Homo sapiens: one gene and its partners. The protein of the gene in region 3 interacts with the protein of the main gene of each other region in a biochemical or structural test. Each region holds a gene or a part of one and is shown on either strand. Other genes may lie near its edges.

Evidence for each region. Proteins that work in one complex are often made in the same cells at the same time.
Region 1: the proteins of CRHR1 (region 3) and DLG4 form a complex in vitro, tested with the Homo sapiens proteins (2 studies listed by BioGRID and IntAct, with this or other methods).
Region 2: the proteins of CRHR1 (region 3) and DLG1 form a complex in vitro, tested with the Homo sapiens proteins (3 studies listed by BioGRID and IntAct, with this or other methods).

What each region holds. Positions count from the first base shown.
Region 1 is NC_000017.11:7,185,867-7,193,627, forward strand, and holds the end of DLG4 (disks large homolog 4), read right to left. Parts: intron 7,719-7,761; coding exon 7,617-7,718; intron 7,252-7,616; coding exon 7,079-7,251; intron 6,137-7,078; coding exon 6,027-6,136; intron 5,493-6,026; coding exon 5,401-5,492; intron 4,949-5,400; coding exon 4,842-4,948; 3' UTR 1,321-4,841; downstream 1-1,320. UniProt on the Homo sapiens protein: Postsynaptic scaffolding protein that plays a critical role in synaptogenesis and synaptic plasticity by providing a platform for the postsynaptic clustering of crucial synaptic proteins.
Region 2 is NC_000003.12:197,287,793-197,295,612, forward strand, and holds part of DLG1 (disks large homolog 1), read right to left. Parts: intron 6,157-7,820; exon of another isoform or gene 6,086-6,156; intron 1-6,085. UniProt on the Homo sapiens protein: Essential multidomain scaffolding protein required for normal development. Recruits channels, receptors and signaling molecules to discrete plasma membrane domains in polarized cells.
Region 3 is NC_000017.11:45,786,567-45,795,207, reverse strand, and holds part of CRHR1 (corticotropin-releasing factor receptor 1 isoform 2 precursor), read right to left. Parts: intron 1-8,641.

The DNA of each region.
Region 1 (7,761 bases), about 39 Mb from region 3:
CTGTCGCCCAAGCTGGAGTGCAGTGGCGCAATCTCAGCTGACTGTAAACTCCGCCTCCCGGGTTCAAGGGATTCTCCTGCCTCAGCCTCCCCAGTAGCTGGGATTACAGGCGCCCGCCACCACCCCCAGCTTTTTTTGTTTGTTTGTTTTTTTAGTAGAGACAGGGTTTCACCATGTTGGCCAGGCTGGTCTTGAACTCCTGACCTCGTGATCTGCCCACCTCAGCCTCCCAAAGTGCTGGGATTACAGGCGTGAGCCACCATGCCAGGCCTGCCTCTTTCCTACTTTTTGAGGGTAAAACTTGTTAAAACTCCAAATGATTCCAGGCTTTAACTTTTGGGCTTATGCATATCTGAAAATAGACCAAGAGGCCAATGACAATAATTGCTACCATTTTCTACCATGCGTCAGGCACTGTGCTGAGGGCTTTACGTGTACTTTCCAGTTTATTCCTCCCAAGTATCCACCAAGGTAGGTAGTTATTTCCATTTTACAGCTAGGTATACTGAGGCTTAGAGAGGTTAAGCTCTCCCCAGAGTGACAGTGACTCCACCATCGTCCCTCATCCTAACGCCAGCAACAGCCTAGCTGGCTCTCCATTGCCCCCTGCTGTGTATTCCCCTTCACACCCAGAGTAACTGGCTCACGGTTCCCTCCACAGCCCTCCAGCAGCTTCTACACCACTCTGAAAAATCCACGGGAAGTCCTGTGTGCCACGCCTCTCTGACTTCTCTGACACACCTATTTCTCTCTGTCCCCCACCCTACTCCACTCCAGTGGCCTCCTTCTGTCCTCCAACCTTTCAAATTTATTCCTTCCAGACTGTTCGTCTCCCTACTTGGCACACTCTCACCACCCCAGTCTTTGTTGTCCTTCAGGCCTCCACCCAAATGATGCTGCAAGGGGCCTCCCTGACCGCCCGGTCTAAACCAGCAAGGGCCATCACTCTCTTTCATAGTAGCACCCATCATTGTCTAAACACTCTGTGTTCACTTACTCCCTATAGTCTGTCATCTCCACTGGATGCACCCAAAGTTCCCTAAGGACAGGGATGTTGCCTTCCCAGCATCTAGAACACTGCCTGGTTCCAAGGAACATCCAAGGAAGTATTTACTGAAAGAAGTAAAAAGTGTGGGGAGAAGAGGAACCAGGATTTGAACCTATGTTGTTTGGGAGCCCAGGGCTCCAATGCATTAATTACATTGCCTTCTCAAGCGGCCAGGCCATGGCCTTGGAAGAATACAGCCCCAGCGGCAACCGTGCTTCCCCTGAGGAATAATGCCTGGAGGGAAACAGGAAGGAAACTTTTTAAAAACAGTATGTATTTCTATATTTATTTGAATTGTTGTCAGGTACGTGTACTGATTATAATTTACAAAATAATGCATGCAGGCCAGGCGCGGTGGCTCATGCCTGTAATCCTAGCACTTTGGGAGGCCGAGGGGGGGGGGGGTGGATCACCCGAGGTCAGGAGTTCGAGACCAGCCTGATCAATATGGTGAAATCCCCATCTCTACTAAATACAAAAAATTAGCTGGGCGTGGTGGCATGCACCTGTAATCCCAGCTACTCGGGAGGCTGAGGCAGGAGAATAGCTTGAATCCGGAAGGCAGAGGTTGCAGTGAGCAGAGATCGCACCACTGCACTCCAGCCTGGGCAACAAGAGCGAAACTCTGTCTCCAATAATAATAATAATAATAATAATAATAATACATGCAAAATTATGTGATTCTACCCCATCCAGGTCAAATATGTGATTCTGCCCCTTCTAGTTTAACACGCAGACGCATTACCTGCACACACCTTCCTCAGCTCCTAGATTTCTCCCTTCAGCTCACGATAGAGAACGTTATCACAGCCTCAAGCCATCTGCTATTACACAGAACCAAGCTAAGAGAAGGATTATTTGAAAAACATCAGGGCCAGGTGCAGTGGCTCACGCCTGTAATCCCAGCACTTTGGGAGGCCAAGGCGGGCAGATCACCTGAGGTCAAGAGTTTGAGACCAGCTTGGCTAACATGGTGAAACCCCGTTTCTACTAAAAATATTAAAAAATAGCTGTGTGTTATGGCACGCATCTGTAATCCCAGCTACTTGGGAAGCTGAGGCAGGAGAATCACTTGAACCCTGGAGTTGGAGGTTGCAGTGAGCCGAGATCGCGCCATTGCACTCCAGCTTGGGCAACAAAAGTGAAACTCGACCTCAAAAAAAAAAAAAAAAAAATCCTCTGAAGCAGTGCTTCTCCACCCAGTGAGACATCAAAATCACCCGGGAGCTTTCCAGAAATGCAGACCCCTGGTCCCTATCCCCAGGATCCTGATGGACTCGGTCCTGCATAGAAAATCCTGCAGGGCAATACGTGGCTACTGGTTGAAGTGACACCCCTTCAGCAATCTCTGCCTCTATTCTTGGACTACTTTAGGCTTGGACGGCCATGCCATCCACAGAATCACTACCCCTGGGTTGGTCTTTTGCATGAAACTCTCAACTTTAGTCAGGAGTGGCTACAAAAAATGCCCTTTTGCACTGTTTGGGATTTAACCACCATAACTCTTAGGGCCCTCTGCCTCAGCCTTACCCACTGGAGCACCTGAGAATCAGAGAAAGGAATAGTACCCCAGCAGGTGCCCCCAAAGGTTCATCTGTGCCAAACACATGAAGAAGGCAGAAGGCTGAGAGTCACCATTCTACATAGCAGGATCTCAGGAGCTTCAGTTAGGACTTAGGGCCAGGAAAATATGACTCCCTAAAAGAACTAAAATTATTTCTCCCTTATAATAAAGAAGTAGGTAATTGACAATTTCCTTTTTTGCCATGGCTATCAGGAAGCTCAGAGATCACATTTACCCTCACAGTTCATATACATTTCTCCAGTTTTCATCTTTGGCATTTAGATTCTTATTTTCCTACCCTCATTATTTACAAAGCTGCCTCAGATCTTTCCCATAGAGATAGGACATAAAGGCTGGGCGTAGTGGCTCATGCCTGTAATCTTAACACTGTGGGAGGCCAAGCTGGGCGGATCACCTGAGGTCAGGAGTTCGAGACCAGCCTGGCCAACAAAGCAAAACCCCATCTCTACTAAAAATACAAAAATTAGCCAGGAGTGGTGGCAGGCGCCTGTAATCCCAGCTATTCGAGAGGCTGAGGCAGGAGAACCGTGTGAACCCAGCAGGCAGAGGTTGCAGTGAGCCAAGATCGCACCACAGCACTCCAGCCTGAGCGAAAGAGCGAAACTCTGTCTCAAAAAAAAAAAAAAAAGGGTGGGGGGGGCGCATAAAGAAACCTAGCGTATATTCACACAGCAGTTCTTATCAGCAGAACTCTGTAAAGATCATTTCCAGGCCAGGCGCGGTGGCTCACGCCTGTAATCCCAGCACTTTGGGAGGCTGAGGCGGGTGGATAACAAGGTCAGGAGTTCAAGACCAGCCTGACCAACATGGTGAAACCCCATCTCTACTAAAAATACAAAATTAGCCAGGCATGGTGGCAGTAATCTGTAATCCCAGCTACTCAGGGGGCTGAGGCAGGAGAATCACTTGAACCAGGGTGGCAGAGATCACAGTGAGCCGAGATCGAGCCACTGCACTCCAGCCTGTGCGACAGAGCAAGACTCTGTCTCAAAAAAAAAAACAAAAAAACAAAAAAAATCATTTCCAGATCCTAGCTCTGTCCACAACTCCATGAACATGAATGAACGAAGTTTCCTCTCTATTTTCCTTTAAGGACTGTTGTGCTTCCCAACAGGACTGAGACAGCCCGGCAGGGATCAGAGCTGGACTAAGTCTGCAGGGCCCCAGACAAGTTCCAGCCTCCCCTTTCTGGCCTGTCATGACTTTGGACAGAGCTCCAGACCTTCCCAGGCTCAGTCTTCACCAACTCGGGTTCCTTGATTTGCCAGTTACCTCCCTGGCCCATTTTCCAGGCCACTAACCTCTCTGGCTTGGAGTGAAGAAGGATCTGACTCTGCTGCGCCCATCTCCCTCCACACCCAGGTCCCAAATAACCAGGCCACACACCAAGTTTCAAGTATCTGTCTCTTCCTTTCACTCTCTCAAAAGAAAAAAATAAATAAATTGCAGAAGGCGGCAGCATTTCCAGTCTTCCCTGGCTCCCGGACACCCGACCCCCGACCCCTGCCCCCCACCCTCCCTCCCGCATTTCCCACTCCCTAGACCCATCCCTCCCTTTTCCCCAAAAAAATTCCCAGGAAAAAAAAAAAAAAAAGCCACATTTAGACCTTCCACTCATGCAAACCGGCAAAGAAAAATGGTGGGGGCATGTGGAAGGCAGGGGCCCGCTGCGGAGTCCCCTGCTTCTCCCCCCAAAAAACCACCTTTGAGAAGAAAAAAAGTGGAAAAAATAAATGAGAAATCAAGGAACATGGGGAATTACGATGAGGGCAGGGGTGACCCCAGACCCTGCCTTAGGAGAGAGCGGAGGCCTGTGGCCCTGCATCCCTGCAGCGGGTGCTCCTCGAGGGGGCCCTGACTTCTGGAATGTGTGTGGGAGAGGATGGGGGAGGGCAGGTGGCCCCCGGTGGGTCTGTGTGTGCATTGGGGGCAGGTGGGGGCGGGGATCCTAAGGAGCAAGGGCTCGGAACAAGGAGCCCAGCTCCCCCCCAGACCCCAGGTTCCTGGCGTTCAGGAGCCCAGTTCTGGGGTGCGGGGATACATGCAGAGGAGTGTCCCCCCTCCAACAGGCTGGATCCAGTTAGAAAGGAAATAAATAAGAAGGGGTGGGAGGGAGGCCGGGGGGAGCCAAGGGCTTGGGCAATTCAGTCCAGACCAAGGGCCCAGGTGATGGAGGCAGGGCGAGTCCAGGCCAAGCCAGGGCAGGAATCAGAGTCTCTCTCGGGCTGGAACCCAGATGTAGGGGCCTGAGAGGTCCTCGATGACACGCTTCACCTTGTGGTAGATCTCCTCAAAGCTGTCACCCTCCACGATGGCTGGGAGTGGGGTGGAGCAGGGAGTGAGGCCAAGGAAGGGCCAGAGGACACCTGGCCAAGGGGGTTGCACCAGCCCAGAGGAAGGGGCACCTCTTTCCAACTCTCCAAGCCATAAGTCCTGGGGCTGCACCCGCCCACAGGGGCACCTCTTTTTTTTTTTTTTTTTTTTTTTTGAGATTGAGTTTTGCTCTTAGCGCCAGGCTGGAGTGCAGTGGTGCGATCTCGGCTCACTGCAACCTCTGCCTCCCAGGTTCAAGCGATTCTCCTGCCTCGGCCTACCGAGTAGCTGGGATTACAGGTGCCCGCCAGTGCTGGGATTACAGGCGTGAGCCACCATGCCGCGCCCACAGGGGCACCTCTTTCTAAGCCATCCACTGGGGGTGGCGGGGGAGCTCTTTCTAATCCGAGCAAGGGCACCCTACATGCTGGCAACAGCCTTGCTGTGGCCTCACCTGAGAAGCACTCTGTGAACTCCTGCTCCAGCTTGGTGGCTCTGTCGAAGGCTTTGCGGGCTTGCTCCTCTGTGATCCGCTTGTTAATCTCTCTGTGAAGAGGGAGGGAGAGCAGGCCTGAGACTGGACCCACCTGACCCTGCCTTTTATCTCCTCTATCCAGGAATGTTAAGTATTCTTCTATTTGGAGCACATAGCAAAAAAAAAAATACAATTCCCAATATCCTCTGGGGCCACAGATGAGAACCACCCCCCACCCCCCTGCCACCCGCAACCGCCCCAGCCAGGTGTGGCTACTCCAGGGACATCTACGGAGCTTCATCCTTCCAGCCTTCAGCCCCAGAGATGGGATTCGGACTCCAATTCCCAACAGCCCTAGAGGCCCTGACTCGCCCCAGCTGGTATGCCCCAGGGGCTGCTGGGAAATGTAGTCCTGTCTAGCCAAGGCAGGAGAGGAGGGGAAAGACCCGATTCCCCCACATCCTCTGGGTTCCAGGGATCCCCCTCAGGGGCTGCTGAAACCGCTGTCCAGGGTTCTGAAGGGAGAGTTGAACGCAGACGCCTTGTGAGGCCCAGGGCCACAGGTGTTGGGGGAGCAAAGGGGAGGCCCCCAGGACCATACTCACAGCACATTCTCCAGGGAGCGGGGGCGGATGAAGATGGCGATGGGGTGCAGGTGGGCCGCCTGCAGCCGCCGCACGGCATTGGCCGAGACATCGAGGATGCAGTGCTTCCCCTGGGGGCAGGCAGGGTGGGCGGAGGGGGGCCAGCGGGTGGCGAGAAAGGACAGAGAGCAGTGCCGGAGGGACACGGACGGGGAGAGGTGGGGAATGGGAAGTTGGCCGAAGGGGAGTGACATGGATGTCAAGAAACACGGGGGCAGAGAGTCAGGCAGGAAGCGGGTATGGACAGAGTAAAAGACAGAGGGAAAGGAAAGGGAAGATGGAGAGCACGGGAGAGGGCAGGGACAGGACAGAATGGAGGAAGGGAGGAGCACCAGGCAGGCAGGGACCCAAGAGATGGTGGCAGAGCCGGGGCAGCAGCGAGTGGGGCGGGGTGTGCAAGGCAGAGGTGACACAGGCGGGAAGGAAAGCCAAGAAAAAGGAGAAAGGAAGTAGGATAGAGGGAGGAGGGAGGGGAGGACGGACAGAGGACAGACAGATGGAAGGAACAAGGAGACAGATGGGAGGGAGTGAGGCAGATGGAGAAAGGAACCGTGGAGGGAGGGAGGGAGGGCAGGGTGAGGAGCAGCGGGGAAAGGAAAGGAGTTAGCAGAGGAGTGGGAGAGGGGAGCCGGGCCCCAGAAAAGGGTGAGGCAGGGGAGAGGGCCAGCGGGGAGTCAGGAAAAAGGGAGGGACCCAGTGGGGAAGGCCAAGCCACCAAAGACAAGGCCATGGGAAGAGAGGAGAAATGGGGCAAGGAGAAGGGAGTGGGGAGAGAAAGAGGCCAGATGGTGGTGGGGAATTTGGGGTCAGGAAGTGAGGGAGGTGGGAGAGAGAGCAGGGGCAGAGAGCAGGCAGTCAGACAGAGTTGCCCAAGAGGAGAAGGAGGTGGAGGAGCGGAGTGGAGACCCAGCAGGGAAAGAGACAGAGAGAGAGAGAGTTAGAGAAAGCTGGAGGGAGGCAGTGGGGTGGGGAGAGGGGAGAAGGAAGAGGACCGGGTGCCCGCCAGGTCCTACCTGCTCTGCCACCTCTCGCACGGACTGGACGCTGGTCCCATAGAGGTGGCTGTTGTACTGGCCGGCCTCAATGAACTTGTGCGCCTGAATGTCCTTCTCCATTTTCTCCCGGGACGACACAAAGTGGTAATCCCGGCCATCTATCTCATACTCCCGCTTGGGCCGTGTCGTATCTGCCAGGAAGTCACCCCACCCCCCAAAGATCTAACCACCATCCCTCTAGCTTAAATCCTGCCTACTTCAATCAAATCCCCATAGTGCCCAGCTGGTCCTTTGGTGAAAGGGAGCTGCCAGGGAGACCAAGACTGCAGAGGGCCAGAACCGCTTCCCCTAGCACCCTCCAGGGCCTCCAAGTCTCTGGCCTGGGCATGGGTACTATGGAATGAGAGGGTGGCTGAGAAGCACCCCTTCTCGGAGAAACCCTGTATCTCCCTACACACCGATCCCCCAGGAGGCTCTGCCTATGGCCCCAGGGATGGGCCTCCCCTGCCCCACCCCCACTTCCACCTTCTCCTCCATCCAAGGCCCCAGCACTCACGGGGAACACAGGATCCAAACTTGTCGGGGAACTCGGAGAGAAGATCATCGTTGGCGCGGTCCTTGGTGGGCCCAAGGATGATGATGGGGCGAGCATAGTGCACTGCAGAGAGAGCCTGGCTTAGGCCGAGCGCAGGGTTGGGGGA
Region 2 (7,820 bases), on a different chromosome or scaffold from region 3:
AAAAGATGGATAACACTCTGTATTGCTTAAGGTATGGTGAATTGGTCATTCTTCCACATACTTCCTAAAAAATAAATACAACATTCCTAAGAGTATTTAACAAATTACCTCAATAGCCTTAAAATGCACACTCCCTTTGACCAAACAATTCATTTCTAGGAGTTTGTCCTAAGAATATAGTAAAGAATTGAAACAAAAATGCATATGCAAATACAATATTTATAATTCACAAAAATTACAAACCTAAATGCTCCTAGGAAACCATTAAAAAAACTACAGAAAATCTATATAGGCCGGGTGCAGTGGCTCACACCTGTAATCCCAGCACTTTGGGAGCCTGAAGCAGGCAGATCAGGAGGTCAAGAGATCGAGACCATCCTGGCCAACATGGTGAAACCCTGTCTCTACTAAAAATGCAAAAACTAGCTAGGCGTGGTGGCGCACGCCTGTAATCCCAGCTACTCAGGAGGCTGAGGCAGGAGAATCACTTGAACCCAGGAGGCAGAGGTAGCAGTGAGCCGAGATTGCACCACTACACTCCAGCCTGGTGACAGATCAAGACTCCGTCTCAAAAAAAAAAAAAAAAAAAAGAAAAGAAAAGGAAAAAAAAAATCTATATACACAGTCACTTAAAATGGTACGAATCTGGCCAGGCACAGTGGTTCATGCATGTAATCCCAGCACTTCGAGAGGCTGAGGCGGGCGGATCACCTGAGGTCAGGAGTTCGAGACCAACCTGACCAACATGAAGAAACCCTGTCTGTATTAAAAATACAAAATTAGCCAGGCGTGGTGGCACATGCCTGTAATCCCAGCTATTCAGGAGGCTGAGGCAGGAGAATCGCTTGAACCTAGGAGGCGGAGGTTGTGGTGAGCTGAGATCAAGCCATTGCACTCCAGCCTGGGCAACAAGAGTGAAACTGTCTCAAAAAAAAAAAAAAAAAAAAAAAAATACATACATACATACATACATACATACATAAAATGGTAGAAATCTACTGACATGGAAAGACATTTGTCGATAAACTTTAGAAGATAAAAACAATATGTATAGTACAGAGAAATCATACTATTCACACTTATACAAATACAACTGCAGTATATCTCCCCTGCAAAAAAGGGCAACTCTGTCTACCCAATAAGTGACTGTCACAAATAAAAAAATGAGAAGGAAGAAGATTCTTCCTTTAGGTAGTCTGAGTTTTCATGTGCCTCTCAAAATGTGAGCTTCTTGCTATATCTCACTGTGCTGAGTGTGATTCTATAATTACGTGTTTTTAGTACAAGAAGTCAAACAAGCCAGTTGCTTCGTCTAGGGCTCAAGTGAAGAAATCATTCCTTTCCACTAGAGGAAAAAAAACAATTGTGCTGTAATTAACAAGAGCTAGTGTTAAATTTCTGAAGGCTTTTCAGGGATAATTTTAACTAGATGAGGTTTTTCACCTTACATGCTGATTTTAAGTATCAATTCTCACAAGGGAAATAACTGTTTTACTTAGAAGTTTGTTTTGCAAAATGAAGGTGGGGGGTGGCGTGTATACACGCGCATACACACACACACACACACACACACACAAATAACATTCCAGGATATTCATCCCATGGATGAAGTAGGAGGTAACCTCTGGTGTGAATATTTTCTTATGGTATTTTACATATAATAATCTGATCTCAAATGTTTTATATAGAACATGCATCATTTTTATAATAAATTTATTTTGGAGGGTTACAGGAAAGGCAACTAGAAAGCTGAAGAACACTGAAATATAACCCTACCATTTCAGAGGAAAAAAATTCTATCAGTTCATTTACTAAAAGCAAGTATGATTATTCAGACAATACCCAATTGAGTAATCAAAATTAACATCATCAGTGAAGGGCAGATGACATACTAAGATAATACCACAATAGTCAAATCTACTCAAGCACAAATACTCTTTCTTCTAAACCAATGTTCATTTAAAAAGTCATTTTTGACCCCTAGAAGAAAGAATATCCTATAAAATTTAAAAGTTTGTACTATTGTTTCACACACTAAAGAAAGGAAAGATGTCAAGCTAGTAGGCAAAAATAAATCACTTGAATACTTTAGATACTATTAGACTAAGAATCATACATGACTCACAAGCATATTCCATAAAACAAGGTGTGTACTAAAAGGAACCAGAGCTTCTCAGAGAAATGGCTGATTCCAGGGCTGGGGCAGGAGAGGTACAAGATAAACCTGGAACATCTTGTTATGCCAAAAATTAAGAAAGTGCTCCAAAAAATGATGAGGGCATCTCATAAGGACACAAGCTTGAAAGGGCCCCCACTGGATCACTCAGAGCACAAATGTCATTAAGGATGGTAATAAATGATAAGTCATTGAAAAAAAAACAGGTATCTGCAAGTTCATGAAAGACACGGGAAAAAAAGAAGGAAGGCTCTTGTTTAGAATAAAATGCAAAGTGTTAACTGGTAAACCTAGGAGTGTTACTGTTAGAAATCTTACTTTTCAACAACCATATTATAAACCGGTTCAAGAATCATCAATGGATGCTAAATATGGGTGGAAATTTTGCTAAGGAGTAGGATATGTACATGGTGTTAAAGTGTCTCCCCCACATATTGCCTATAAGCCACAAGGGGTAAAAAACAATGACTATAGGATACAGAATTCAGACAACACCCAACTAGGTAATCAAAATCAGTATCATCAACAAAGAGCAGATGACTCTGTGTACCTCTGGATGTACAGAATCCTAAGCCAGGAATACAAAACCTGAATCTAATCACAAGGAAACATCAGACAAACCCAAAATGAGAAAATTATATTAAAAAAAAGTAAGAGTGGAAGGAACTGCGTTTTTCAAAATCATCAATCTCAGCTGGGCGCAGTGGCTCACACCTGTAATCCCAGAACTTTGCTCAGGAGTTCGAGACCAGCCTGGGCAACACCTGTCTCTAGAAAAAGTTAGCCAGGCGTGGGGGCTCACACCTGTAGTCCCAGCTACTCAGGAGCCTGAGGCAGGAGGATTGCTTGAGCCTGGGAAGCAGAGGTTGCAGTAAGCCACCACTGCACTCCAGCCTGGGTGGCAGAGCAAGACCCTGTCTCCAAATAGTAAAAAAAAAAAAAAAAAAAAAAAAGTCAGTCTCACACAAGACAAAGAAAAGCTGTGGAAATGTGCCCTAAGTAAAGAGACGTGACAACTAACGGTAATATCTGGTCCAAGTCTGGATTCTGCACTGAGGAAAAATATGACCCTGCAGAGAGGAAATGGCTTAGAAGAAATATTTAGATGCCTTTACAACTCTGATTCCAAGGTTCTAAAGAGAATTCAGCCAGATTCAACATAATCAAAACACTGCTTCAGAGCAGTAGTAAGCAAACTATGAGCAAAGAACTCAATCTAATTGAATCAAAACCATCAAGTGAGAAGTTACTAAAATTCTCCATTTCAGGAAGTTTCAGCCAACGATGTGATCCATATCCTGTTTTCCTTACTCAAATCTAGCCTACAAAGTTACACACACACACACACACACACACACACACACACACACACAGTTAGCAAGAGACTAAAATGTAACATCAGTGGGACTAATATAATGCAAAAGAAATTTAAGAAATTTTGACATTTTACCACTATAGCTGGAAGATCTCAAACCCTGATTACTAAACACTGTTTTCAAAATGTGTGATTTCCATCATCATAAACATAATGCACCATTATAAATATTTTCCTTCAAAGTGACAATCATTTAAAGATTACTAACCCTAAAGATTGCTATCTGTCTTAAGCATGCTTGTCATTTAGTATTCTTTATCAGATTAAAATACTCAGTTCTGAAAAACAACGATAAAGAATATCCCAATGGTTGACGGTGAGAAGTATCTATGGATTCAGATTAGTTGAGTTCAATTTCTGGCTCCGCAATTTAGCATCTGAGGGTCCAAGGGCAAGATTGGTCATTTCTCAGTGCTTCAGTTTTCCAGTCTATAAAACAGTACAAACACCTCATACAGGTGAATGTACACCTCACAGGATTACAATGACTAAATGATATATTTGTATTAGCACATAGAAAGTGCTCAATAAATGTTGGTTATTATGTTTTACATACACTTGAAGAGGAGTCATATACTCACACTTATTAGGATGGCTATTATCAAAAAAAGAAAGGAAAAAAATTAAGTATCGGCAAGGATGTGGAGAAACTGGAAATCCTGTGTGCTGCTGGTGAGACTGTAAAATGCTGCAATCACTATGGAAAACATTATGGTGGGCCCTCAAAAAATTAAAAATGTAACTGCCGTATGATCCCACAATCCTATTTCTGGGTAAATATCCAAAAGAACTGAAAGCAGGGTCTTGAAGAAATATTTGCACACTCACATTCCTAACAGCATTATTCACAACAGCCAGGAGGAGGAAGCAACCCAACTGTCCATCAATGGATGGCTAGATAAAATGCGGTATATACATACAACGGAATATTATTCAGCCTGAAAAAGGAAGAAAATCCTGTCAACAACTACAACATGAATGAACCTTGCGGACTCTACACTGAGTGAAATAAGCCAGTCGCAAAAAGACAAATACTTCTATGAGGTTTCTAACATGATCAAATTCACTGAAACAGAAAGCAGCACGTTGGTCACAAGGGGCTGGGAAGTGAGAGGAAAGGGGAGCAGTTGTTTATTCGGTATAGGATTTCAGTTTTGCAAGACGAAAGTGTTCTGAAGATTTGTTTCACAACAATATGAATACATTTCACACTCCTGAACTGTACATTTAAAGATGGTGAAGATGGCAAAGGGGTCATACTTTTGAAACTAGTATCTACAAATAAAGATAGGGTAATGTCCTTTTATAAGGGCTAGTGAAACTATTAGATTTTAATAGAGTGGCAACAAATGAACTGGTAACTAAACTCATAAATGGACAGTATTATTACATAATCCACTTTCATTCTGAAATCTCTGCAGAAATAAAACACTGCATTAGAATAAGCTTATTTATTGCAGACAAAATATACAAATCACATGACTCAACTTACTCAAGTCTCTAAAGCCAGCCTAATCTTGGGCCCCAGTTTTTCTCATGCACAAGGAAAGCAGATGAGTTCTCTGATCCCGTAAGAAATAACTGCAGGGGTTTAGACTGGTATGAAGTCTCTATGGACTAGCAGTGTCATCTCAGATCCCACACACCTTAGAATCATGAATGAACTGAAACCACTATGGACCTGAATACCTGGGCTCTGATTATAATCAAACCATATCCCGTCTACTCAAAAAATTTTCAAACTTAAGCACAAAAAACTGGAATACAAAAGCAAGTTTTCAAATTGCTCTCACCTAAATCACAGAGTGAAATTAAGCAGACTTTATCTTCCTTTATACAAAAATAATCACCAGGTATGTTTTGGGAGTAAATTTTAAACAAATGTGCAGTTCATGGACTTTTGTTAAGATACAACTTTAAATATTTAGCTCTAAAGAAACAATACATCAGCTGAAATTCAAAATTAGTAAAAACTTTTCTGCTTTCAATAATTTTTAAATCTTTAAGCCATCCTTCAAAGATACTACCAAGTATCTATCAGCACTAGACCAATGATTTCTATATTACATTGCGAGTATCAATTATAAAATGCACTATTTCATGTGTCAGAACACAGAAACACTGTCAATTAAAAATGACATATACCAGATATTGAAATATTTAACAGTTGGTATTTTAGAACAAATATAATACAGTACGTACATGCTTGTCCCTCTGAATAATCCAAAAGTACAGGAACCTAATCTATGTATCAACTACAGGGGGGGACACCAAACCCCTAGAGACTCAAACTTTTTTAAATGCATGAAAAGTCAATATAAACTACCAGTTCAAAGAATCAATCAATAAATGATCAATGCAGACTGAAAATCCAAAGACACTTGGCACCCCAAACAGATAACTAGATAACTCACTGCGGCCTAAACAAGTGATTTCCAAATTAAGGAAGTGAAAAATCTAAGCACTCAATGACTCCAAACAGCTCAGGTGGCCAAGACCCCTGTTCTCCTTTAATCCAGTGGTCCACAGGTACCAACTCAGAAGACAGAGTGCCACTTACTGAGAGAAAAAACCTTTCAGTAAGTGGCACTCTGTCTTCTGAGTCGGATTTTTCTGCAAACACTATGGACACAATGAACTGGTTTAGCTTAGGGCAGTTTACAAGCTTAAAGTACATTTATGACACTGTTTCAAAACAATGGTAGAGTTGCAAAATACAAAGAAAATCTTATCAGACTAAACATTTTCAGACTAAGTATTAAAAGTTATTCAGGAAACACAAGAGAATGTATTTATTCCGTAGTATCAACAATTATAGCATGGAAACACACAGAACCTCTATTAAACGTTATCTATTTCAAAACTCCTAAAATCTATTACTTGTCTTACACCAAAATGTGATATAGTACCACATCCTATAGAACATTAAATATAAGTAAATTTAAATGTCAAAGTAAATTCACAACCAATGAAATTAGAAGATTCACAAATATAAACTTAGTAATTAGGAAGCTAACTCTAGGCCAGACGCGGTGGCTCACGCCTGTAATCCCAACATTTTGGGAGGCCGAGGTGGGTGGATCACGAGGTCAGGAGATCGAGACCATCCTGGCTTACACAGTGAAACCCCGTCTTTACTAAAAATACAATACAAAAAATAAAAAATTAGCCGGACGTGGTGGTGGGCACCTTTGGTCCCAGCTACTCAGGAGGCTGAGGCAGGAGAATGGCGTGAACCTGGCAGGCGGAGCTTGCAGTGAGCGGAGATCTCGCCACTGCACTCCAGCCTGGGTGACAGAGTGAGACTCTGCCTCAAAAAAAAAAAAAAAAAAAAAGAGAAGAAAGCTAACTCTATCAAAGTTCAATTGTACGTAAGAATAGACACATTCAAAACAGGCAAGGCAGAATAGGTCAAAAATGTCTCTGAACACAGCAAACCCATCCCCAATCTAGACAGAAATATAAATGTAGATTCTGTTATTTCACTAACGATTTAATTTTCTTAAGTTACAGCCATCACACAAAGAAAAGTCTGCAGTCTATCTATCTGCCTATCTATACATATATGTATATATATATCTCTATACTGTTGCGAAAAAACATACTTTTTTTGCAACAGTAACTGCACCAAATTACTAGGCTCAATGTTGATTTAGAAAACAAATAACTAAAAAATGCTTTTTGCTGTTTTTCCAGAGGAATCCAATTTGATCATCCATTCGGACCTTAAACCTCAGAAATTCAAATGTGTAAAAAATGTCCATCAATGTAAACAAAAATGGCAAAATGTGAATTTCTGGAGCTGGGTAACAGTTAAAAGGCAGTTCATTACACTGTGCTATGTATCCTTATGTTTTTAAAAGTCTATTAAAATGTTACATTTTTCAAAATTGTTCAGGTGCATCAAGTGGTCTTTACAAAAATCTTTCATTCTAAAACCGTAGAGAGCATCCATTTATCAATAATGTACCTGACAGGACACACTGACTTGAAAGTAGTCTTCAAATCACACCAACAATTATTCTATCAACAGATAGATGTAAGGCCATATCTGACTGGAAGTTACTGAAGAAATAAATGTAATATAATTAAGTATATGTCTTCTTATGTTAAAATGTTATATAGTTGATAACTAAAACAAAAAAAAAAAACTTCATTCTTAGAATTGGAAGAGACAAACTTTCTAGTTCGGTGGTTTGCAAACTTTTTGAGGTACCTGGACAAAAGAGCCAGACAAGTCACCTTGTTTTATACATAGGAGATTATACA
Region 3 (8,641 bases):
CCTGTGCGACCTTGGATCAGTCAGTCTCCCACCTCCTGGCCTCAGTCTGAAGGCAGCGGACTGGTGGAAACGACCTTTCCTGGCCAGCTGGGCAGATGGGAACTCCTTCCCCTGACTCACTCTGTCCTGGCCCTGCTGGGTCAGCTCCTCCAGATCTCCTCCTGCAGGGGGTGCACAGGAGATGCAGGAAGGTCTGCCTGCTGATGCAGCCAAAGTTGAGGAATGAGGCAGCCCAGAAAGAGCTTGAACAGCAGCCTCTTCCCAGAGTCAGCGAGCTGAGCTCACCCAGCTGAGGCTCCACCAGAGCCTCTCCAGGGCCGGCACCTCAGAGGCAGGAGGCAGAGCCGGGTCCTGGGCCCTGGGCCCTGGAGAAGTGGGATTCCTTTACCTTGGATGAGTGCGGGGACAAGGGGTAGAACAGCATGGGGCTAAGTCCTGTGAGCTTTGGGGAACCCACACAGAGCAAGGCTGCCCTTGCCCCACTAGGGGCTGCGACCACTGATCATGGGTCCTCAGCTCACCTTGTCACCAAGTGCAGATTGATGAGTGTGACAAGGAGGGGGAAGGGGCCTGCTCAGAACCCGCCACTGGGTAAGGGGTCTGAGTAAACCAAAGAGTTTCCTCCTCCTGGACAAGGGTTCTTCCTTCTTCCGTCGCCCAGCCTTGGCTGCCAGAAAGAGCCACTACATCACTCACATCCATGCAATGGAGACACACAAGTGCAAGAAGCATGGCAGGAGGGGCAGGCTGTGTGAAGGGTGAACCAGAGATCTGGGCCAGGCAGTGAATTCTGGCCCCAAAGGAGGGCTTTAGGCCCGTGCTATTCAAAGGGTGGTGAGGACTGGTCCGACTGGTCAAGTTTGCCAACCTACCAACAATTGGTTCCTGGTCTACAACTTGAGAAGTACAAAACTGGAGAGTAAGCATTTCATGTGAATCCATCCCTGCGGTGACATCCGAGCATGCAGTCAAGACTCATCTCGTCAAACAGGGTCTAGACCAATTCAGATGCTGTCAGACTTGCCAGGTGAATCACGTGGTGCAGGCTACACAGCAGGACCACACGCCAGTTGGCCATGGATTGGAAAAATCCATGTGGTCCTTCCCCACAGCTGGTTTGAGAGCCCTGCTTTGGCTGGAGGACAGAGTGTGATGCCTGGCTCACCAGGGAAGGCCTCATGGAGGAGGCGGGTCTTGAGTGATAGTTGGGCTTAGTTCTGAGGGGAGTCCTGGGGTGGGACTCCCACCCATGAAAACAGCAGGTCTCACTGGCCTTTGGTGGGAGCAGGCCCCTTGCAGCAGCACAGGCATTTCCTCTTTCATTCTGCATTGTGGTCGGTCCAGTAAAGAGGACACAAGGGTCCAGAGAGGTCATGTGATTTGCCTAAGGTCACCCATCCAAGAAGTGGCTGAGTCAGCTCCAACCCCAGGTCTCCTGCCCTGTCAGCTTTAGGGACAGTGGTCCTTCCTCCAGGGTGCATGTGAGCCCCACCACTCCTAGGCCCCCCTGCCCTGCATTTCACAGCCTTGCAGCAGCTTCCACAGTCAGGCCATGAGGCCCCAGCCATCAGGAGAGAAAAGACGCCCCAGGCTGCACCCCCACACCGACTCACAGGGAGCTGGAGGGGTGGGATGCCAACGGACGGGATCTCACGAAGGTACCAGGAATGCCAGTGCTCTTGGCGCCCCTGCCTTGCCTGGCTACTCCTGCCTCATGACCAGCAGAACCAGGACAGCACCAGGGAGGGAACCCCAGGATGCCACCTAGGCCGCCTCCCCAGTCCCCATTTGGAGGCTAGAGTGCCCTGACCCTGCTCTCTGGAGGCCCCAGCTTCTGAGACCTTCTTGCCCCTTTGTTTCTAAGCCCAGGGCCACAATTCCCTCTAGCAACATCTCCCACCATCCCTGTCCAGAACCGCTCATGAAGCAACATGCTGCCCTTGCGTGCACGTGGACAACGCCCCCAGTGCTATGGGGACCGGAGGCGGAACACAGGGCAGTGCTGGAATCTTTTAATGTTACTAAGCCGCGCTGCCGCGTAGCCCTTGATAAGCCGTTGAGTCACAAATCCACACGCGGAGGCAGAGAGGGACCTATCTGTCTGGCTTGCCACTTGTGTCTTCTGTCGCCATAGCACTTCCACACTCAGACAGACGTTCATTGGGGAGTGGGAGCAGGGAGAGACCCTCCATTTAGTTCAGCATCTACTGTGCACCTACTGTGTGCACAGTTCTGGACTAAGTTCTGGGCACACAGAGGTTTTGTTATTTTTTTGTTTTGTTTTGTTTTGTAAGGGAATCTTTCTGGTCTAGGCAGAGCTCATAGTCTACGGTGGGAACAAGGGCTCAGGTTAGATGTGGGTCACCAGGGGTCCATGTGGAATCTGGTTAGTAGGTGTTTTTGAGCCCCCTGTGGGGGGATACATCAAAGAGCTGTAAGACCCCATGTTGTGGGACAGCCCAGGATCCACGATGAGCTAGAGGCTCACACCAGGGGACGGGATGAGGTGAGAACAAAGGAACAACCAGTGAGAGACAGATTTAGACTGGAGGGCTTCCTGGAGGAGGAGGTGGGGCCAGTTCAGGAAGACTTTGGTGGACATGACAGATGAAGATTGGCACAGAAAGACTTGGGGGCAGAAGCTCCTGTAAGAGAAGTGTCATATATGTATATTCTGCTGGGTAGGGGTTGGCAGGGGAGGAAGGAGAACAGTGCGACTCAGGCAGAGGGCCAGGAGTGAGGAGCAAGAGATTAGGGGAGCATCAGGTTCTTTCCCCTCTAGAAGGGGATGGGAGGACTCAATGGGGTCACTTGTGTGGGCCTTAGTGCAACAGCAGCTCAGTAAATGGCGCACCTGGCCAGTAAACAGTGTACCTGCTTAAAAGAACCTGGGAGGCGTAGGCAAGGGACAGGAGCAGAGTTGGCAGAAAGAGGAAGGGGAAGGGCGTGGCTTAGACCAAGACCAAGCCCAGGACGCAAGGACCAGCCTCCCTCCAAGGACCAGCCTTGCCCTACCCGTCTGGGAAGATGAAGGAGTGGCTGAGTCTCTCGGGCTCCCAGCCAGGCACGGGCAGCTGAGGGATGCCGGGGAGGCTGTCTAACCTGCTAGTCACTCACCCAGCTAAGCCCGTGGTCCCCAGGTGCCCAGCTGCTCCTCTGGAAGTCAGCCTCTAACCCTGGCCTTGAGGTGGCATTGCACACCTGCCGTACAGGTCTGGCTATGCTCAGAGGAGAGGTGGTGACCACACAGTGGCTTCTGAGGGAGGTGGCAGGTGCGGGTGTTACAAACACTGCAAAGTAGCTCACTCGCCAGGGTACCAGCGTGTGTGTGTGTGTGTGTGTGTGTGTGTGTGTGAGAGAGAGAGAGAGAGAGAAAGAGAGAGAGAGAAAAAAATGCCCACTGAGAAACACACAGGCCCACAGAGGCAACAGATCCTGTCCCTTCTGCACCCTGCTTCTGGGGAGGAGGAGCAGCCCTGGGGGTGGTGGAAGGGATCATGGCGGGAGCTCATCTGGGGCATCTCTGCGCCGAAGGCTCTCCTAACAGCTGAGGACGGCTTCGGGCACCCAGGCACCAGGATAGGGATGGGTGGAGGAATTCTTGTGAGAAACAGAGAGGAAGTTTCCAGGAGATGCCACCGCTGGCCTCAGAACCCGGGCATAGGCTCTCTTGGATGCTAGGGAGAAAGTTAAAAGCAAGAATGACCAAGGCAGGCAGGCAGGTCTTTTTCTTCTCCCTCCCCTTTTGCTTCTCTCACTGTCTGTCTGTCTCCGCATCTTCCGTAAGAGTGAAATCATCCACCCTGAGCGAGCCCTTGGGCACCCTGCCAGGCCCGTGCTCTGAGTGCAGTTGGGTCCCCAGTGCAGGGGGCCTGGACCTGTAAGGACTGTGCCTCAGATGGCCCTGGACTCTCCTAAAGCCCTTTCCCCAGGGTAAAACCCCGCCTGGACCCGGTTTGCTTTTCCAGCCCACCCAGCCCAGCCCCTTGTCCCCCAGCCACACTCCTTTTCCCTGTCTCTGTGCACAGGCTCCCCACCCAGCCTGGTACCTCTGGCCTCTGCTGAGCTAGGAAGGGCTTTCTAGAAATGAGCCCTTCACACACCTTGCCAAAGAGGCTGGGAAAACAGGGAGGGAGAGGTGGATGGATCACAGAGGGAGGGCACTCCCCACTGGAAATGGCAATGCTGCGGCCATCACTTGTCCCAGCCTTTCACCCTGGGCAGGTGCCTTTCAGCTCTGTGGGCTTTGGTACTGACCAGGGATGATGACCAATATATTGTCCCAATTCTCCTAAAGCCCCTGACATCCCAGCACTCAAAGGTTCAACTAAGATTCTCACTGTGCTTCCTGATAGCCCCCACTACCTCTTAAAACTCCAGTGGGTAGACTCTAAAGTATAGCGGTCAGTCTAGAACAAGCCCTGCCTCCCTGGTTCTGCAGCCACGAAGTGACTGGACCAGTCTAGCCAGTTTTTCTGGGCTCTGACCTAGGCGCACTGGCTCCCAACCAGACTGGCTGGGGCTTGGAAACCAGCTGACATGCGGAGGGGGGCAGATGCACACCCCACAAATCCCATCTCAAAGCACCTCGCTGAGGCTTCTCTCTGGGCCCAACAGTGCCAGGCGGGTGAGATGGACAAATTGCCTGTGCTTATAGGGCAGAAAGAACAGCCGCAAACATCTTCATTTGTCCCAGAAACAGTTTTATGGCTGCTGGGTGGACAGTTGCCAAAGAACATGTTTGGCTAAAGCATTTGAATCCGCAGTTCTACGTGAAGGGGAACCCGTCTTCCAAAGCCAGATTCTGACATGCCTGTTTCATGAAGTCTGCCTCCCTCCCTTCCTGCCATCCATTCAATTTTGTGGAAGCGGATACCACATACTCAGAAAACAAGTGATTAAGAATCTGTTGTCTAATAGAATCCAGCTAGTTATTTTCAAAATGATTGTTTGCATCAGTGAGTGAATCATTTCGTATTATCCTCCCTACATATCTACTTTTACTGTCAGGTTTTTCCATATCCCAGATGTTCAGGTCTGTCTATGACCTTCAAGCTCAGCTGATGGCTGGTAGCTGATCCCTTTTCCCCAGGGACTGTGAAAAGTGCTCTGACGCAGGAAGAGATTCTATACGCCAAATACCCTTCCTCTACCCCCATCCCCTCACCACTTCTCCTTTTGATGGCCTTTCTTAGACTGAGGAAGTTGGTAAGATTTATTAAGTGACTACTATAGCTAATATTTATTATGCACTTACTGTGTGCCAGACACTGTGCAACTGTGCATAATTTCACACCTGGCATCTCATGGTCATTATGATTATGCCATAAAGCAGGTATTATTTCCCCCGCTTTAGACAGATGAAGAGGTGACTTGCCCACAGCTTCAGGGCAGAGTAAGGATTCAAGCCCACATTTGCTTCATCTGCTGTTCCCACCCATACAAGAAGATGTTGACTGCCACACTGGGTGGGGTAAGGGATGGCTGGCCTAGAGCAACAAGTCCAAAGACAAGCATTTTAAAAGGATGAAGGCTGGGCACTGTGGCTTACGCCTGTAACCCTACACTTTGGGAGGCTGAGGTGGGAGGATCGCTTGAGCCCAGGAGTTTGAGAATTCGAGACCAGCCTGGGCAATACGGCAAGACCGTTTCTACAAAAAAATTTAAAATTAGCTAGGTGTGGTGATGCACACCTATAGTCCCAGCTACTTGGGAGGCTGAGGTGGGAGGATCACTTGAGCCCACAAGGTTGACGCTGCAGTGAGCTGTGTTCACACCACTGCACTCCAGCCTGGGCAACAGAGTGAGACCCTGTCTCCAAAAAAAAAAAAAAAATTCCTAGGGACTCTGCTGACAGGGACCTCCCTGAATTTAGGTAGACAAGAATGATTTGTAGTTAACAAATTCATTGTTTGACTATTAAAACTGCAGCTGAAATCTCGACCTGGCCTTACGTTCAAAATGGGCTCACCCTTCTTTGGTTGATACCGTGAGCAGTTAGGGTAGAATCAGAGCTGGGAGAGATCACCCTACTCCCTCTTTTCACTGAGGAAGAAACGGCCCAGATCACTGTTAGTGACCTGCCCTCCTCCAGACACGGCAAAAGCGCTGGAGTTTCACTGGCTGAGGCTCTACCCTCAAGGGATTCTCCAGATCACTGGGGTGCTGCACTGGTTGTGTGTTGTTTTCTCTTTTTTAATAACCACAGTGGGCTTAAGGGGGAGTTCTAGTCCTTTCTGCATCAGAGATGGCTTTTCTGCTAGGGTGGTTTAAGCATCTCTCAGCCTTCTGTTTCGACCTGACATCTGCATCTGGTGGGAACAGAAACGGGTTCTTTCCAATTGTACAATACCAAATGGAAGAAGCAACAATAAACTCATCCATGAAGTCGACAAACATTTGTTAAACACCTACTCTGTGCAACGGATTGTGAGGCTCAGTGCCGTGAAGGGTAAAAGATGCAAAAAATATATAATATATTGCATGTCCAAGAGCTGCTAGTTGCTGTTCCTGCATTAACTTATATCTGCTGAGAGTAGCCACCTTGCAGCTTTTTCTGAAAGCAGACTGTGCCAGGCACTGTTCCAGGCACTTTCCATGTATTAATTCCTTTTGTCCTTACCTCAACCTCCTGAGTTAGGCATTTCCCCCATTTTATAGCTGGGGACACTGAAGCCCAGAGAGAGTACTTAGGTCCAAGTACCATGTTCCAAGGTCCCTCAGCTTGAGCAGAGCTGGGAAGGGGGAGTGCTGGGAATCCAGTTCGTGGCACCCCCCTCTTTCTATGTGAGGTCATGTCCCTAAGGAGTATTTGAAAACACAGACCTTTCACAGAGACATGAGAGATAACAGAGAATCCAGTCCAATACCCCTGTTTACAGACAGATAAACTGTGGCTCAGAGAGGGAAGGTGACCTACCTGTCATCACACAGCTGATTGGAGGCAGAGCTGGGATCAGAGTCAGGTTCACTGACTCCCAGGCTGATGGTCTTTCCCCTTCAATAGCTGCTGAAATTATCAGCCCGGCACCTAACTGCTTCCTTCTAGGCCACACGGGCACTTGGGGTGGTGGCACCTTGACCCCCAAACTCCTTATGTGTGGCTGAACCTGGAGGTTGATGCTTTTGAGGAGCCAAATGTTAGAGAGGGTGAGAAATGGATTTTCCACTTGAGCTCGTCCTCACTGGCTCTGGGTGAGTGTTCAACTTTTCCATAATCTACACACTCCTCTCTATGGCTGGTCATTTCAAATCCAAGGGGCTTGGCCTGGCTTTTGGCCCCTCCCTGTCTTTGCCCCCAGTCTGTGGCCAGGCCAGCAGTCCCGCACGCCACAGCAGCCCACTGGCCCACCCTGGGCTCACTGTTTCGCGTTCCTCATGCCTCTTGCCAACGCTCCCCTCGAAAACCTGGCTCTATATCGTTTAATCAAAGAAACAACTTGGAAATGGCCCAGATATGCACCGATATAGGGATGGCAAAGTCCATTCACTCACAGGCAACATGCAGACATTGACAGTCTCCTGCAGAGCCTCGGGAGTAACGTGAAACAGACTTGGGCTGTGACACTGAGGAGAGGGCTGCCCAATGGCCACAGCTGTGCCCAGACAGGTGCTTGAGAAGGGGACCTGTGGGGGTTATTTTTTAAATGAATTATACAGTAGCCAGATTAAAAGAGTGAGGTTGCAATCATTTTCCATTCTGGTTTTCAAACTTTGCCTATTGCTGCTAAATTGGCTTATATAAGAATAACAATAGCCAGCTCCCTCCTGGGAGCTCACTCTCCTGTTAGAATCCATCCAGAGGCCTTGCCTTCTGCACCCCTCACAGACACTGGGACCCATGTTTACAGCCACACTCCATCTCCCTACGAGGAGATGCAGTGGGTGTGTGGCTGACTCCGAGGTGCTCAGGCCCCTGCCCCTCCCTGGGGATAGAGACAATGTCTTGTCTGTCTTCTCCTGACTCATGGCCACTTGTACACACATCGTCTCTCCCCACTCACACACACACTTTCACACACCCTGTCTCTCCCCATTCACACACATTTTCCCCCAGGACTCTGTAACTGTTATAGTGTGAGGCCCACAATATAGGCCCCAGAGTGGACCCTTTCCCAACACTGGCTGACTTGTTGGGGATGGAGCTGGATTTGGGATTAACCCTAAATCCCCTAGATTTGTACTCTCATGCTGACAAAACTACCTGAGCTCTCATCTGGCTGAGCTCTAGAGTGAGATTTAGGTGGCTTCGAATATTTTCTGGTAATGGCCGGGCATGGTGGCTCATGCCTGTAATCCTAGCACTTTGGGAGGCCGAGGCTGGCTGATCGCTTGAGCCCAGGAGTTTGAGACCAGCCAGGGCAATATGGGGAAACCCCATCTCTACAAAAAATACAAAGATTAGCTGGGTGTGGTGGTGCATGCCTGTGGTCCCAGCTATTCTGGAGGCTGGGGTGGGAGGATCACCAGAGCCTAGGGAGGTTGAGGCTTCAGTGAGCCATGATCACACCATTACACTCCAACCTGGGCGACAGAGTGGGACCCTGTCTTGAAAAAAAAAAAAAAAAAAAAGGATATTTTCTGGTAAAAGCAAACAAAACAAAGCCTTTTATCAGAGTGTCTGGGTTTGAATTCTGACTTC